Homo sapiens: one gene and its partner. The protein of the gene in region 1 purifies or fractionates together with the protein of each later gene. This does not show direct contact. Each region holds a gene or a part of one and is shown in the gene's direction. Other genes may lie near its edges.

The links. The genes of interacting proteins can lie anywhere in the genome.
Region 2: the proteins of TULP3 (region 1) and WDR35 purify together in Homo sapiens (affinity purification with mass spectrometry; 6 studies listed by BioGRID and IntAct, with this or other methods). This does not show direct contact.

The regions. Positions count from the first base shown.
Region 1 is NC_000012.12:2,928,864-2,935,891, forward strand, and holds part of TULP3 (tubby-related protein 3), read left to right. Parts: intron 1-101; exon of another isoform or gene 102-162; intron 163-1,384; coding exon 1,385-1,482; intron 1,483-2,173; coding exon 2,174-2,377; intron 2,378-4,554; coding exon 4,555-4,667; intron 4,668-5,583; coding exon 5,584-5,698; intron 5,699-7,028. UniProt on the Homo sapiens protein: Negative regulator of the Shh signaling transduction pathway: recruited to primary cilia via association with the IFT complex A (IFT-A) and is required for recruitment of G protein-coupled receptor GPR161 to cilia, a promoter of PKA-dependent basal repression machinery in Shh signaling.
Region 2 is NC_000002.12:19,931,078-19,938,105, reverse strand, and holds part of WDR35 (WD repeat-containing protein 35), read left to right. Parts: intron 1-159; coding exon 160-363; intron 364-1,740; coding exon 1,741-1,887; intron 1,888-2,502; coding exon 2,503-2,635; intron 2,636-4,594; coding exon 4,595-4,705; intron 4,706-5,658; coding exon 5,659-5,823; intron 5,824-6,696; coding exon 6,697-6,837; intron 6,838-7,028. UniProt on the Homo sapiens protein: As a component of the IFT complex A (IFT-A), a complex required for retrograde ciliary transport and entry into cilia of G protein-coupled receptors (GPCRs), it is involved in ciliogenesis and ciliary protein trafficking.

The DNA.
Region 1 (7,028 bases):
GAACCCAGGAGACGGAGGTTGCAGTGAGCTGAGATGGTGCCACTGCACTCCAGCCTGGGCAACAGAGTGAGACTCCATCTCAAAAAATCATAATAATTTACCAGTGCTGCAGCTCTTTTTAGAATTTGTCTAGCAAGTTTTCCTGTTTTTACTGAAGCCTTCCCTTCCCTTCCAAATAACAAAAAGTACACTTTTTTTTTTTTTAAGAGTTCGGGTGGGCCGAGACGGGCGGATCACGAGGTCAGGAGATAGAGACCATCCTGGCTGACACGGTGAAACCCCGTCTCTACTAAAAATACAAAAATTAGCCGGGCATGGTGGCGCGCGCCTGTAGTCCCAGCTACTTGGGAGGCTGAGGCAGGAGAGTGGCGTGAACCCGGGAGGCGGAGCTTGCAGTGAGTCGAGATCGCGCCACTGCGCTCCAGCCTGGGCGACAGAGCGAGACTCCGTCTCAAAAAAAAAAAGAGTTCGGGTGTAATTCTGTCACCCAGGCTGGGGTGCAGTGGCACAAGCATAGCTCACTTTAGCCTCAAAATCCTGGGCTTAAGTGATCCAACCACCTCAGCTAGCTAGGACTACAGACACACAGGTACCATCGTGACCAGCTAATTTTTTTAAAAAAACTTTTTATGGAGACAGGTCTCAAACTGGTGGCCTCAAGCAGTCCTTCTGCCTCAGCCTCCCAAAGTGCTAGGAGTTCAAGCACGAGCCACTGTGCCCTGCCTAAATTTTTTTTGTTTTGTTTTTTTGAGACAGAGTCTCTGTCTCCCAGGCTATAGTACAGTGGCACAGTCTCGGCTCGCTGCAAGCTCCGCCTCCCAGGTTCAAGCGATTCTCCTGCCTCAGCCTCCTGAGTAGCTGGGACTACAGGTGCGTGCCACCACACCCGGCTAATTTTTTGTATTTTAGTAGAGATGGGGTTTCACCATGTTAGCCAGGATGGTCTCAATCTCCTGACTTCGTGATCTGCCCACCTCAGCCTCCCAAAGTGCTGGGATTACAGGCATGAGCCACCGCGCCCAGCCTGCCCTGCCTAAAATTTACAACTTTAATCAATTTTAAGTGTGAGATTCAGTGACATTAAGTGTATTAACAATGTTGTGCAACCATCACTACCATCCATCTCCAGAACTTTTTCATCATCCCAGAGACTTCACACCCATTCAAGATAATTCCTCATTCTCCCCTGCCCCCAGCCCCTAGTAACCTCTATTCTACTTTCTGTCTCTATGAATTTGCCTGTTTTATGTATTTGGACAAAATAGTTGTGTTTACGGTCAGAATAGTTAAGAATGTTTTAAGCAAGAAAATTAAAACTATCTTTGTTTCAAAGACCTTTTTTAAACAGTGTTGGCAGTGCTAACAGTTCTTCCTTTTCTGCTAGATATCTCTGAAAGTGTGAACTTCGATGAGGAGACTGATGGAATATCCCAGTCAGCATGTTTAGAAAGACCCAATTCTGCATCAAGCCAGAATTCAACCGTATGTAGTTCTGAAACTTCTTCCATTAGAGCTAATTTGACTCTTTCTCAAACATATCTTCAGTATTTATTTATTTATTATTATTATGTATTTTTTGAGGTGGAGTCTCGCTCTGTCACCCAGGCTGGAGTGCAGTGGCATGATCTCAGCTCACTGCAAACTCCGCCTCCCGGGTTCACGCCATTCTCCTGCCTCAATCTCCCGAGTAGCTGGGACTACAGGCGCCCGCCATGACACCCGGCTAATTTTTTGTATTTTTAGTAGAGACAGGGTTTCACCATGTTTGCCAGGATGGTCTCGATCTCCTGACCTCGTGATCCGCCCGCCTCAGCCTCCCAAAGTGCTGGGATTACAGGCATGAGCCACCGTGCCCAGCCCTCAAACATATCTTCAGTATTTAAATACCATTACTGAGTGAGGGTTCCTTCAGAAGTGTAAGCTCAAATTTAGTTTATGATCTAATTTTTTCTGTCTCAGGTCAGCTATTGTGAGGCTTTGTCCCATTTTGATACTTACTCTTCATTACTCTCAATATTCATATACTTAATTTAACTTTTCAGTTTTCCTCATTCTGTCAGAAGACTGAAGACACGGGTAAATTACTAAGTTGCTTTGTCCACTAAGTGTTTTTCAAAGAGAATCAGATTTTGAGTCTCGGCCTGTTGTTGCTCATGTATGGCTGTCCTTTCAGGATACAGGCACTTCCGGTTCTGCTACTGCCGCCCAACCAGCTGATAACCTCCTGGGAGACATAGACGACCTGGAGGACTTTGTGTATAGTCCTGCCCCTCAAGGTGTCACAGTAAGATGTCGGATAATCCGGGATAAAAGGGGAATGGATCGGGGTCTCTTCCCCACCTACTATATGTACTTGGAAAAAGAAGAAAATCAGAAGGTATGAGAATTGATTTCTAAGAAAACTCTTGAGAGAGAGAAGAATGTTGTGGGAATAGATTGTTGATGGGCCTTAGGGAACTAACTCTGGTATTAGACCAAGCCAGCTGGAAGTAGATTGTATCTTTCAGTCCCCAGATGCTGTGTTCTCATTTTCTGCAAAGAGCTCATGGTCTAATAGGCAGCAAGCTCTACCCTCCCACAAATAAGAGCTTTATCCACGAAGTGGGAAAATGGACGGGTAGTTGTTAATGTAATTATTTTCACCTGTCTCCCATGATTGAGTTTTTGAATGTTACTGTTTGTTCTTTTGGTTTTTCTTTTTATTACGGAAGAACATGACATTGTGGAAGGAGAGTGAGTTTTAGGGAATAGGAGGAATTAGAAATACAGAAGGACCTACAAGTTAAATGTCTTGTTTCTCACCCTAGAAGTTCTAATTTATTTTATAAGTTTGAGCCAGCGATGAACTTTATTTTATTAATTTTGTATTAATACCAGGTCTTAACAGATGATTTTAAGAGCCTAGAAATAAGATAATGATACTAGGTGTTAATTCTTCTAACCACCATTTATTGAGTGTTTACGACAGACCAAGCATATGCATATATATCTATATATATTATCACCTGTAATCCTTGCAGCCACCTTGTTAGGTAGGATTTCTTACCTCTGCTTTAAAGATGAGGTAACTGGGGCTTAGGGAGTGACTTACCTACCCCACGTTGCACTAAGTGGTGGCAGAGCCAAATTCAAACCTATTTTGCATAATTCTAAAGTCTTCCTGCTTAGCCACTGCCACTCTCCTGCTTCCCTATTATGGTCCTAGTCTAGGAGAGTTTAGGAAGGATGCCTATATAGGATGGTATTCATGCCATTGAGGTCACAGTGGTTTAACACAACAGCAGTATAGAAAAAAGAGTATTTCCTCCCTGGAGAGGCTTCCCTTTTGTCCCTTCTTGCCCTTTGCCTAATCAGAGTCTTTCCTGATGTGCTTCACCAGATGTGGTTGACATTCCTCTGTCTGTGTCCCCATGGCATGAAGAAAGCTATCACAGGCCAGGTGCGGTGGCTCACACGTATGATCCCAGCACTTCGGGAGGCTGAGGCAGGTGGATCCCTTGAGGACATGAGCTCGAGACCAGCTTGGCTAACATGGGGAGACCCTGCCTCTAGCAAAAAATTAAAAAATTAGCCAGGAGTGGTGGCATGCACCTGTAGTTCCAGCTACTCGGGAGGCTGAGGCAGGAAAATCACTTGAACCTGGGAGGCAGAGGTTGCAGTGAGCTGTGATTGCACCACTGCACTCTAGCCTGGGTGACAGAGTGAGACCCTATCTCAAAAAAAAAAAAAAAAAAAAGCCATCACAGTAAAGAATGGGAAGGTTTTCAGGATCCTGTCTCTCCTAAGGTTGGAAAGACTCTTAATCATGGCATTGGATGAACATTGATTGTTATTTATTTATTGGATTTTGCAAGGTTGCCCAGGCTGGCCTTGAACTCCTGGACTCCAGTGATCCCTCTACCTCAGCCTCCCAAGCAGCTGGGATTATAGGCTCATGCCACCTGGCCCAGCTTTGGAGATTTTTTTTTTAACTGGAAGTTTTAGGGATGAAGTTGTAACTAATTATATGGAGAATCAAGCTAGTGAATTTAGAAAAACTGTATAGGAAGAAAACCCTGATAGTGAATTATTTTATTTTTATTTTTTATTTTTTTTTTGAGACAGAGTCTCATTCTGTCACCCAGGCTGGAGTGCAATGGCATGATCTCGGCTCACTGCAAGCTCCGCCTCCTGGGTTCATGCCATTCTCCTGCCTCAGCCTCCTGAGTAGCTGGGACTGCAGGCGTCTGCAACCACGCCCAGCTAATTTTTTGTATTTTTAGTAGAGACAGGGTTTACGGTGTTAGCCAGGATGGTCTCGATCTCCTGACCTTGTGATCTGCCCACCTCGGCCTCCCAAAGTGCTGGGATTACAGGCGTGAGCCACCACACCCTGCCTGATAGTGAATTCTGATAAGAGAGTTAGAGAAAGGGATAAAGGCCCAAAGATTAACAGCTTGACATATGCTGAGGACTTGCTAAGCACTGGCTGAATGAATATGTAGGACAACCATGACCAGAGGTGGGGCAGGTTCTCTGGACTTCATTTTTGACTGACACTTTTTCTTTTCCCAGATATTTCTTCTTGCAGCTAGAAAGCGGAAAAAGAGCAAAACAGCCAACTACCTTATCTCCATTGATCCAGTTGATTTATCTCGTGAAGGAGAAAGTTATGTCGGCAAGCTTAGGTGAAAGCAACCTTAGATCACTGTCCTATTCTTTCTGATAGTCTTATTCCTATAGTTGCAGAACAGTCCTTATCTTGGTTACAACTAGCATGTATTGATGTTGTAATCTTAAAAAAAAAGAAAAAGGAAAAAAAAAAAAGCTGGGCGCAGTGGCTCACACCTGTAATCCCAGCACTTTGAGAGGCCAAGGCGGGCGGATCACTTGAAGTCAGGAGTTGGAGTCCAGCCTGGCCAACATGGCAGAACTCCCTCTCTACTAAAAATACAAAAATCAGCCAGGTGTGGTAGAACAGCCTGTAATTCCAGCTACCCGGGAGGCTGAAGCACGAGAATTGCTTGAATCCAGGAGGCAGAGGTTGCCGTGAGCCAAGATAGTGCCACTGCACCCCAGCCTGGGTAACAGAATGAGAGTCTGTCTCAAAAAAATAAAAAAATAAGGCTGGTGTGGTGGCTCAGGCCTATAATCCCAGCATTTGGGGAGGCTGAGGTGGAGGATCACTTGAGGCCAGGAGTTTGAGACCAGCCTGGGCAACACACTGAGACATTATCTCTTCAAAAAACTTTAAAATTAGCCAGGCGTGGCAGTTCTCACCTGTAGCCCCAGCTACCCAGGAGGCTAAGGTGGGAGGATGACTTGAGCCTGGGAGTTTGAGGCTGCAGTGAGCTATGATCCCTGCCACTGCACTCCAGCCTGGGCGACAGAGCGAGACCCTGTCTCGAATTAGTAAGTAAATAAAAAGTTAAAAGAAAATCTCAGTTCCTTCCTTGCTTTAATGAGATATTTTTGAAAAAGTGATGATGAACATTGAGACATTTGGAAAACAGGCAAATAGGCTTCCATTTTCCTTCTCTTAGATTGTGTTTGTATAAGAAAAAAAATACAGATCATCATGGTGACTTTTTCTCCTGACTCCAGATCCAACCTCATGGGGACCAAGTTTACAGTTTATGACCGTGGCATCTGCCCCATGAAGGGCCGGGGTTTGGTAGGAGCGGCCCACACCCGGCAGGAGCTGGCTGCCATCTCCTATGTGAGTGCTGCTTTCCCAGGGCCGCTGCCTGCCCTCCTGGTGTCCTGCTGGCACTTTTCACCTAGTGTCGCTGAAGAACCTCCCCTCCCAAGCTTGTTTCTATTTCTGTGATTTCTGTTGCTGTACCATTTTCTCCATGTATTTGAGTTTTAGTTATTTGAATTGCCAAGTTCAATTATTTTTCACTCTCAGAACATTTCTTCCCTTATTTCCTTTTCTTTTTTCCTGCTGCCACTTAATTCAGACCTTTACTTCTTACCCAGTGGCCAAAGGTTACAATAAATTAAAGCTGATCTTTTTTTGCTTTTAATCTTTTCCTATCTAGTTCATTCTCTTTTTTCTCTTTTTAATCTCTTTTTCTTATTTTTTTTCCTCTTTTTGGCATTTATAGTCCACTTCTTTTTAAATTGTATCTTATTATTATTTGTTTTATTGTCCTTTTTCATTTCATTTCACACCCGGGAAAGGCTTGAGAACTATCTAGCTCGTTCTCTGCTGCCACCAAATGAATCTTCCTACAACGAGGCTCCAGTTGATCCTCCTGTTCTGCTTCAAATCTTTTAGTGACTACCCATTGTGTGAGATCTAACATGGTAGCATTTGCTTTCAGACTTCTCTATTGGCATGCCCCTCCTTCCCATCATTCTAGCCAAGCAGCCCTCCTGTCATTCCTTTGTCCAACCACACTCATCTTTCCTCCTTGGAGAGGCTTCCCTTTTCCTCTTTCTGGCCTTTTGCCTTATCAAAGTCTTTTCTGATGTACTCCACTAGATGTGGTTGACATTCCTTCATCTGCGTCCTTGTAGCATTTGTAACCCACATGTATTTGTTATTACTTGTTCAACATGAACCGTTTCCACCAGTTTGTAAACTTGTGAATTCTTACTCATGGCTATATCCATACTAGCACATGGCTTGGCACACAGTAGATATTCAAAGAGTTGTTGAGTAAGAGAAAGCAAGAAGGAATTGACCCATCTCAGCTGGTTTTTTTATTCCAAAGTCTCAACTTTCTTAAGTTGAAATTAATCCCATGAGATCTTATCTACATGCCTGAGAACCATTTGACTTCACACTTTAATGTAAGGTGTCTTTCCTCTATAGCTTTCATATATAATCTGCTTGGCTTGGCTGGGCTTGGTGGCTCACACCTGTAATCCCAGCACTTTGGGAGGCTGAGGTGGGCAGATCACTTGAGCCCAGGAGAGACCAGCCTAGGCAACATGGTGAAACCCCATCTCTACTAAAAATACAAAAATTAGCCGGGCATGGTGGCAGTCGCTGGAGTCCCAGCTACTGGGGGCACTGAGGCAAGAGGATCACCTGAGTC
Region 2 (7,028 bases), on another chromosome or scaffold:
AAATAAGCAGAAAATTATTTGAAAAATGTTTGCATATGTTACTTTCCACCATGTTTCTCTAGAAATAATAGACATAAATGATAATTGAATTGTGATTCAAGACTAGTTTGTCAGTAATTTGCAATATGCACTTATGTTTTTGTTTCTTTTAAAATAAAGGCGCCTACTGGCTGAAGCAGCTCTTCAGAAACTGGATCTATACACTGCAGAGCAAGCATTTGTGCGCTGCAAAGATTACCAAGGCATTAAGTTTGTGAAGCGCTTGGGCAAACTACTGAGTGAGTCAATGAAACAGGCTGAAGTTGTTGGCTACTTCGGCAGGTTTGAAGAGGCTGAAAGAACGTATCTCGAGATGGACAGAAGGTAAGTTATGAAGGCGCAGGCATCCCTGAGTACTCTATCAGTTCATCATTGTATTTTTTACAAATGGAAACTATAAATACGTTAGGTGTATCATATGGTTCCTTTTAGAAATTAATTTTAAGTTTGGATTACAACCTAGATATTCTACATGCCTCTCATTCATTTGTGTTTCATAGTCTGGAGGCAGTTTTCTTCTCTGTTTTTACATCTAATAATGGCTGACTCTGGGAGGTTTTTTTTTCATTTGATGGGAAAAAATGATAGAACAACAGAGACTGGGATCTTTTATATTTAAGACATAGCTCATTATTCCAGTTCTTTCTTTCTTTGTTTGTTTAGGCCATTATTTAATTTTATGTTGTCAAGAGGCATAAAATAAAAATCAGAAGTCGTTAGGGATCGAGATTAGTTCTTTATATTTCGTTTTTGATTTATATAAAATAATGTATGAACTTCATAAATATTTCTTCTTTTGAATTAAAGAACTGTAAGGCCTGTCTCCCTGGCCAGGAATCAAACCCAGGCAGCTGCTATGAAAGCAGATAATCTTAGCCACTGAACCACAAGGCGGAGAGTCTGTCTGAACTTCATTTCAGCTGTTAAGATTGTATCTCATCTTCATTAATGTTATTTATACTCCCAGGAGATCTCTAATATGACTTAGGCTCTGAAAAGTCATATAAAACCACATGTGTTAACACTGTGTTTTGTTTTGAAATAAACCTGATCACATCTAAGAAATTGCTGAAAAGAAATGATTGTTATTTAAATCATTATTTTGCTAAATAAATTGAAAGTCCAGGAAAGTAAAGGCACAACATTCTTTTCCCTGTTCTGGTATCTTAGACCATTTGGGGTGCTATAACAAGATACCTGAGACTGGATAATTTATAAAGAACAGAAATATTTTTCTCACAGTTCTGGAGACTAGGAAGTCTAAGATCAAGGCGTCAACAAGTTTGGTGTCTGTTGAGGGCCCTGTCTCACTTTCAAGATGGTGCTTTGAATGTTATGCCTTTACATGGTGGAAAGTGAAAAGGGCAAAAGGGGCAAATTCTCTGAGGAGTCTTTTATGAGGGCATTAATCAATTCATAAGGGCAGACATAATGACTTCCCAGAAACCCCACCTCTTAATACTACCACAATGGAGATTAAGTTTTAACATGAATTTTGGAGGGGACACACATTCAAACCATAACCTCCAGGTGCTCCTCATTTCCTCTTAGCTAGTCAGGCTAAGTTCCTAAAGTGTTTGGAGAGTCACATTGTCCACTGCTGTGTAGCCTCAGCACCTAGAACTGTACCTAACACACAGCAGGCTCTTGGTAAATATTTGTCAAATAGATGAATGAATGAATGAATGCCTTTGTTTGTAGGGATCTTGCTATTGGCCTCCGGCTGAAATTGGGGGATTGGTTTAGAGTACTCCAGCTCCTGAAAACTGGATCTGGTGATGCAGATGACAGTCTCCTGGAACAAGCCAACAATGCCATTGGAGACTACTTTGCTGATCGACAAAAGTGGTATGTAACTTACCTGGAGCTCCTCAAGCATTCATGCAACACTTAGTAGCTGCCTGAGTACTTCTCTAGGAAGTAATCCTGGGGAAATGAAGATCATTTTCTTGAATTCTAAAATTCAGATAGCTCTAGATTCATCTTGGAAAGCCGGAGATCCTGTGAAGTTGTGAGATGAGCACTATAAAAATTTGTAGTGTATAAACACAAAACTTGTACTTAGCTCCATGCAGCTTTCTGTTTGAGCCTACAGTATATAATTCTAAGGTGTTTTATGTTTTATTTTTGAACAAAGTTTAATAAGTGTTTTTATTTGCTTTATTATATATTATTTTCAGAAATCATTGGCTTTTCTTTTCATTTTGATTAGTATGCTTATTTATGTCAGTGTTTGGGAGTAAAGCGGTGGTATTTCTTAAGAATAGTCAAGGAATGTTACAACTAGAATATGCTTTAGATTTTTTTCCCCATTTATATGTTTGAAAGTTATTCTGAAGCTGAAGATAATGAACAGTAATACTAGTACTGGGAATTATGATGAAGGAACATTTTGGTTGAAAGTGCTTATTTATCAGGAGATTCACATTAGTTTTAAAAGTTTTTCCTTTTTTCTTTCTGTAGGTTGAATGCTGTACAATATTATGTACAAGGACGGAACCAGGAACGCTTAGCTGAATGTTACTATATGTTAGAGGATTATGAAGGGTTAGAGAACCTTGCCATTTCACTTCCAGAAAACCACAAGTTACTTCCAGTAGGTATTGCAAATTTTAGTTTTTGGAATTGTTAGGTTACTTTATAAAATTTTATGTTATAGTCAGGAAATATCTCCCACAATAAAGAAAATTAAAAATCTATAATGTTACAGTTTCTTAGACATGGAATGATGCTTTTAATTATAAAGTAATATATAAATAATATAGAATGCTTGAAAATGGAGGAGGAAAAGTCAGTCACATTCTTACTACTTTAATATGATCACAGTCTTGTGTAGTCTGTTAAGATTTATAAAGTTACTTTTTAAATGTTAGCTGAATACATGAAATATTTACAGATGAAATGATATGTTGCTAGGGATTTGCTTCAAAATAATCTGAAATTGTTTGAAATTTGCTATAACTTAAGTTTAAAAAGATAGCTCAACTTTTATTATGTTATATTAACAATAAAGTATTTCAAGTTAAAAGAGAAATGGAAAGAGTTCTCTTGCTTTCAAATGTTCTTTTAGAGCCTCTTAATTAATTGTTGAATACTGTAAATAAGTTTGTATTTTATGTGTTTAATATGTGAATCACTGAGCCGTACAATACTTGTAGAGCTAGCAGCTCTCAACTGCAGAGTCTGGATGTATATCAGTTGTGAGTTCTGCTTCAAAAATTTTGCCTATTAGTTAATAGATAAGTATAGAATTACGGTAATTCAGTTTTCCCTATTGTGAATTTGAGCGGCTATCTCTGTAATAATGGTATTTTCACTCACCCTTATTTTCAATCCTATGGGTTTTCTTGAGTAGGAAAGAAACTGAAATTACTTAGAACCCTGGGTATAGGGAAGAGTGTATACTCCGTTAGTGTTGTCTGTTAGATGTGTCTGATGATGCCGATAAACATTTTGCTGTAGGGTATCCAGAATAGTAATATTCCTGAGTAAATGCTAAGTAATTATAACTATAATGATAATTAAATAACTAAAATAGTAAAAATTTTAGTATTATAAATTTTAAATAGAGTTATAGAAGAATTTTTAATAATATGGGAAGGTGTACATAATATTTAAGTAGGAAATACAGGATACAAAATTGTGTATTGTGTGATTGTGTACAACACAAACATATACATATATATTCAAAGGACAAAGATGTTAAGAAATTGCACCAGAGTATTGAGAGAGGTTTCTTATGAATGATAAGATTATGAGTAATTTCACTTTTTCATGTTTTGTAATTTTTTTTACAGATAGAATGTATTCCCTTATAATCAGAAAAATATAAGCATTGTTTTAAAAGTTGGATATAAAATATACTTTCATACTTCCAAACATATTGTAGAAGGGTTGGGGAGGGAAAACCTCTGGCTAATTAGATATTCTGAAAGAAAAAAAATGATGTTCTGAAAATGGCCAGTGCAGCTGAACAAGTAGGATTTTTTTTTGTGGTGGTGGTGGTGGTGGTGGTGGTGGTGGTGGTGGTGGTGGTGGTGGTTCTTCCTCGCTGCCACCACTTTCCAAGAGAGCTCTGTTTTGGGTCTAGCTTCCTGAACTGATTAATGGCAGACTTCTCTAGGACATTTCTTTATAGAGGTATTTGAGGGCTCTGTGAATGTGAGATTTCCCTTAAGTCTCTAGTTAATAATTAGCACTGAGTATACCACCAATTGATATAAAGGCTTTTTTCACCCACTGGTGGGGGATTTGTTTTGGAGCTTGACATTTCTGTATACTAGCTACTGAACTGAGATAAGAAAGGAGTGCAGTGTCTTCAGGGCCTCGTTAAAAATCAGATCCACAGCCTGAGCCAGTGAAGCTCTGGATTTATAGAAGTGATGCCTTAGCATCCATTCTCATTTGTACCCTCTGCCCTTGCGTCTGTTTACAAGAAAAATCTGTAACTACCAGTAAATTTAATACTCATACGTCCCTACGGAGTTTTGTTAAATTAAAATATAAGTAATTTCCTTGGTCTGTGAAATCTGATAGTATTGTTTTGTTTGTACAGGAAATAGCACAAATGTTTGTCAGAGTTGGAATGTGTGAACAAGCAGTGACTGCATTTTTGAAATGTAGTCAACCAAAGGCAGCAGTAGATACCTGCGTACATCTCAACCAAGTAGGAACTGAAACTTTCTGTCTGTGCAGCTTATTGTCTTAGGAATTTTTAAGTCAAAGCAAGGTTAAAGTCACCCTAGTGATCTTTTAAAGATTATTGCCAATGTAAGGGTTGGAGAGCCTGACGTGAATTTTATGAAAGGAGCCAGGCGGGTATTCTCTTAATTGAGGATGAAGAAAGTTGCACTTACCTCTTAAAGTGCTACCATGAGGGGTGACCCACTTATAACCAGCTCAGTATGGGAGCATGAACAAACCTTGTGCTTTTAGTCTGGCAAGTTTTTGTCTGGAAGTAATTTCATAATTTTCTGCATTTTGTTAGGGTTGGGTTTTGTTTCCAAAGAAGGACCAGTTAATGGTTGGTCATTGCCTGAGGAAGGAATTGAGTTACTTTATCAATATTTATTTTGGCAAATCTGTTTTCCTTTTCCTTTATAGAAAACATACATTTGATATTTTTAAGAGCTGAAATTAAACTAAAAGTACAGCGTTATTATAGAAACTATTGACTATTAATGTATTCTTTTAATATTTTTCTTATTTTTTAAAACCCCTTTTGCTTTATAAAAATAATTTTTAAATGTCAAATCTGATAGGACATTTTCACAACTGAAATTGCATATTTTGTTTTACTATAACATATAAACAAGTGTATCTTTCTTGCTTGAAGTTTTGTAAGATTAGAATTACAAGATTAATATGATTATAAACTTTGAAACTTTCATTTTCACATGTATTTCTTAAGCAAATCAGAGTCTTAGAGATCATTTAATCATTTTGACTTATGCTTATAGGACTTATGTTGCTGTGATTTTAAATGCTATTTTTAAAACATACCAGTTTTTAATTTTGAAATAGTGTTTTTACTATAAACTTAAAGCTTTCTTGTGTGAATTTTATGATATATGTGACTGTAAATACTTGGGTGACTGAATGGTGTAATTTTTCTCCTAGTGGAACAAAGCTGTTGAATTGGCTAAAAATCATAGTATGAAAGAAATTGGATCTCTGTTAGCTAGGTATGCATCTCATTTACTGGAAAAGAATAAAACTCTTGATGCCATAGAACTCTATCGGAAAGCCAATTACTTTTTTGATGCAGCTAAACTGATGTTTAAGGTAATGTAAAAATCTTGGTGAATAGTTGATTTGTTCCAGTCACAATATTTTAATATATGAAAGAGCATATTCTCCATTTTCTTTGGAAACAAATATTTATTACAGCAAAACCACTCTGGTTTTATTGCTTCTGTATACATTATTTTAGTATTATTGCCTTTTACCAACAAAGATGTTTATTAATATTAGCAACTTACTAATACCTAAACAATTGTATGTTGAATACTGGAGTTAACAAAGAGTTAAAGAAATTACTGAGACTGCAAAGTACAAATTTCTACAACAGGGAATTAAATTTTGTTGATAATAGAGTTTTAAGTTCTTTTAAATGTACAAGTTTTAAATATTACGCTTTACATAATATTTATTTGGAGGGAAGATAATTAGTACAGTATTAATGTATACACATTTTACCTTCTATTCTATTCCCATTTGATTTAATGAAAAAGGAAAAATATCTCTTAAAATCATTTAAATAAGTTTCAGCTTCTGAAGGATGCACCATGTTAACACTATCATATCTTTGTGTACTTGGAACATTATTTTAAAAATCTCTGTATTATGGAAAATACCAGCATTTCATCAATACTTTCTTTATTCTGATTTAGTTATCTAACAGCACCTCTCATTTTCTAAGAGTGATCTGAATTCCAACTCCTAGGGCTAAATACTAAGGAAAGAACTAAATACGAATAGGTACTAATGAAAAGAAGATAGGTTTTAAAATATTTATCTTAAATAGGTGATATTTATATTCCATCTTACTGATTTTCCTCCTTTTTTAGGGAATCAAATTTGTTAGTTTTGGAAATGATTGTATTTGTACAAATATAGATAAGAAGTAACTTCCCTCAATTTTGAAAAATGTTTAAGATTGCAGATGAAGAGGCAAAGAAAGGAAGTAAACCTTTACGTGTCAAGAAGCTCTATGTACTGTCAGCCTTACTTATAGAGCAATACCATGAACAGATGAAGAATGCCCAGCGAGGAAAAGTTAAAGGAAAAAGTTCAGAGGTAAAGTAGCACGTTAAATAACATTACATCATTGGAAGTGTTTAAGAAAAAAAAAAAAAGAAACTATTAAACTTCTTTTATGGATAGGTCATTTAATTTGCATGTCTGCATTTGTTTCCTTAAATGATATGAAGAAAAAGAATGACTGATTTAGAATTAGTATTCAAATTCAGAAATTTCTACCTAGAAAT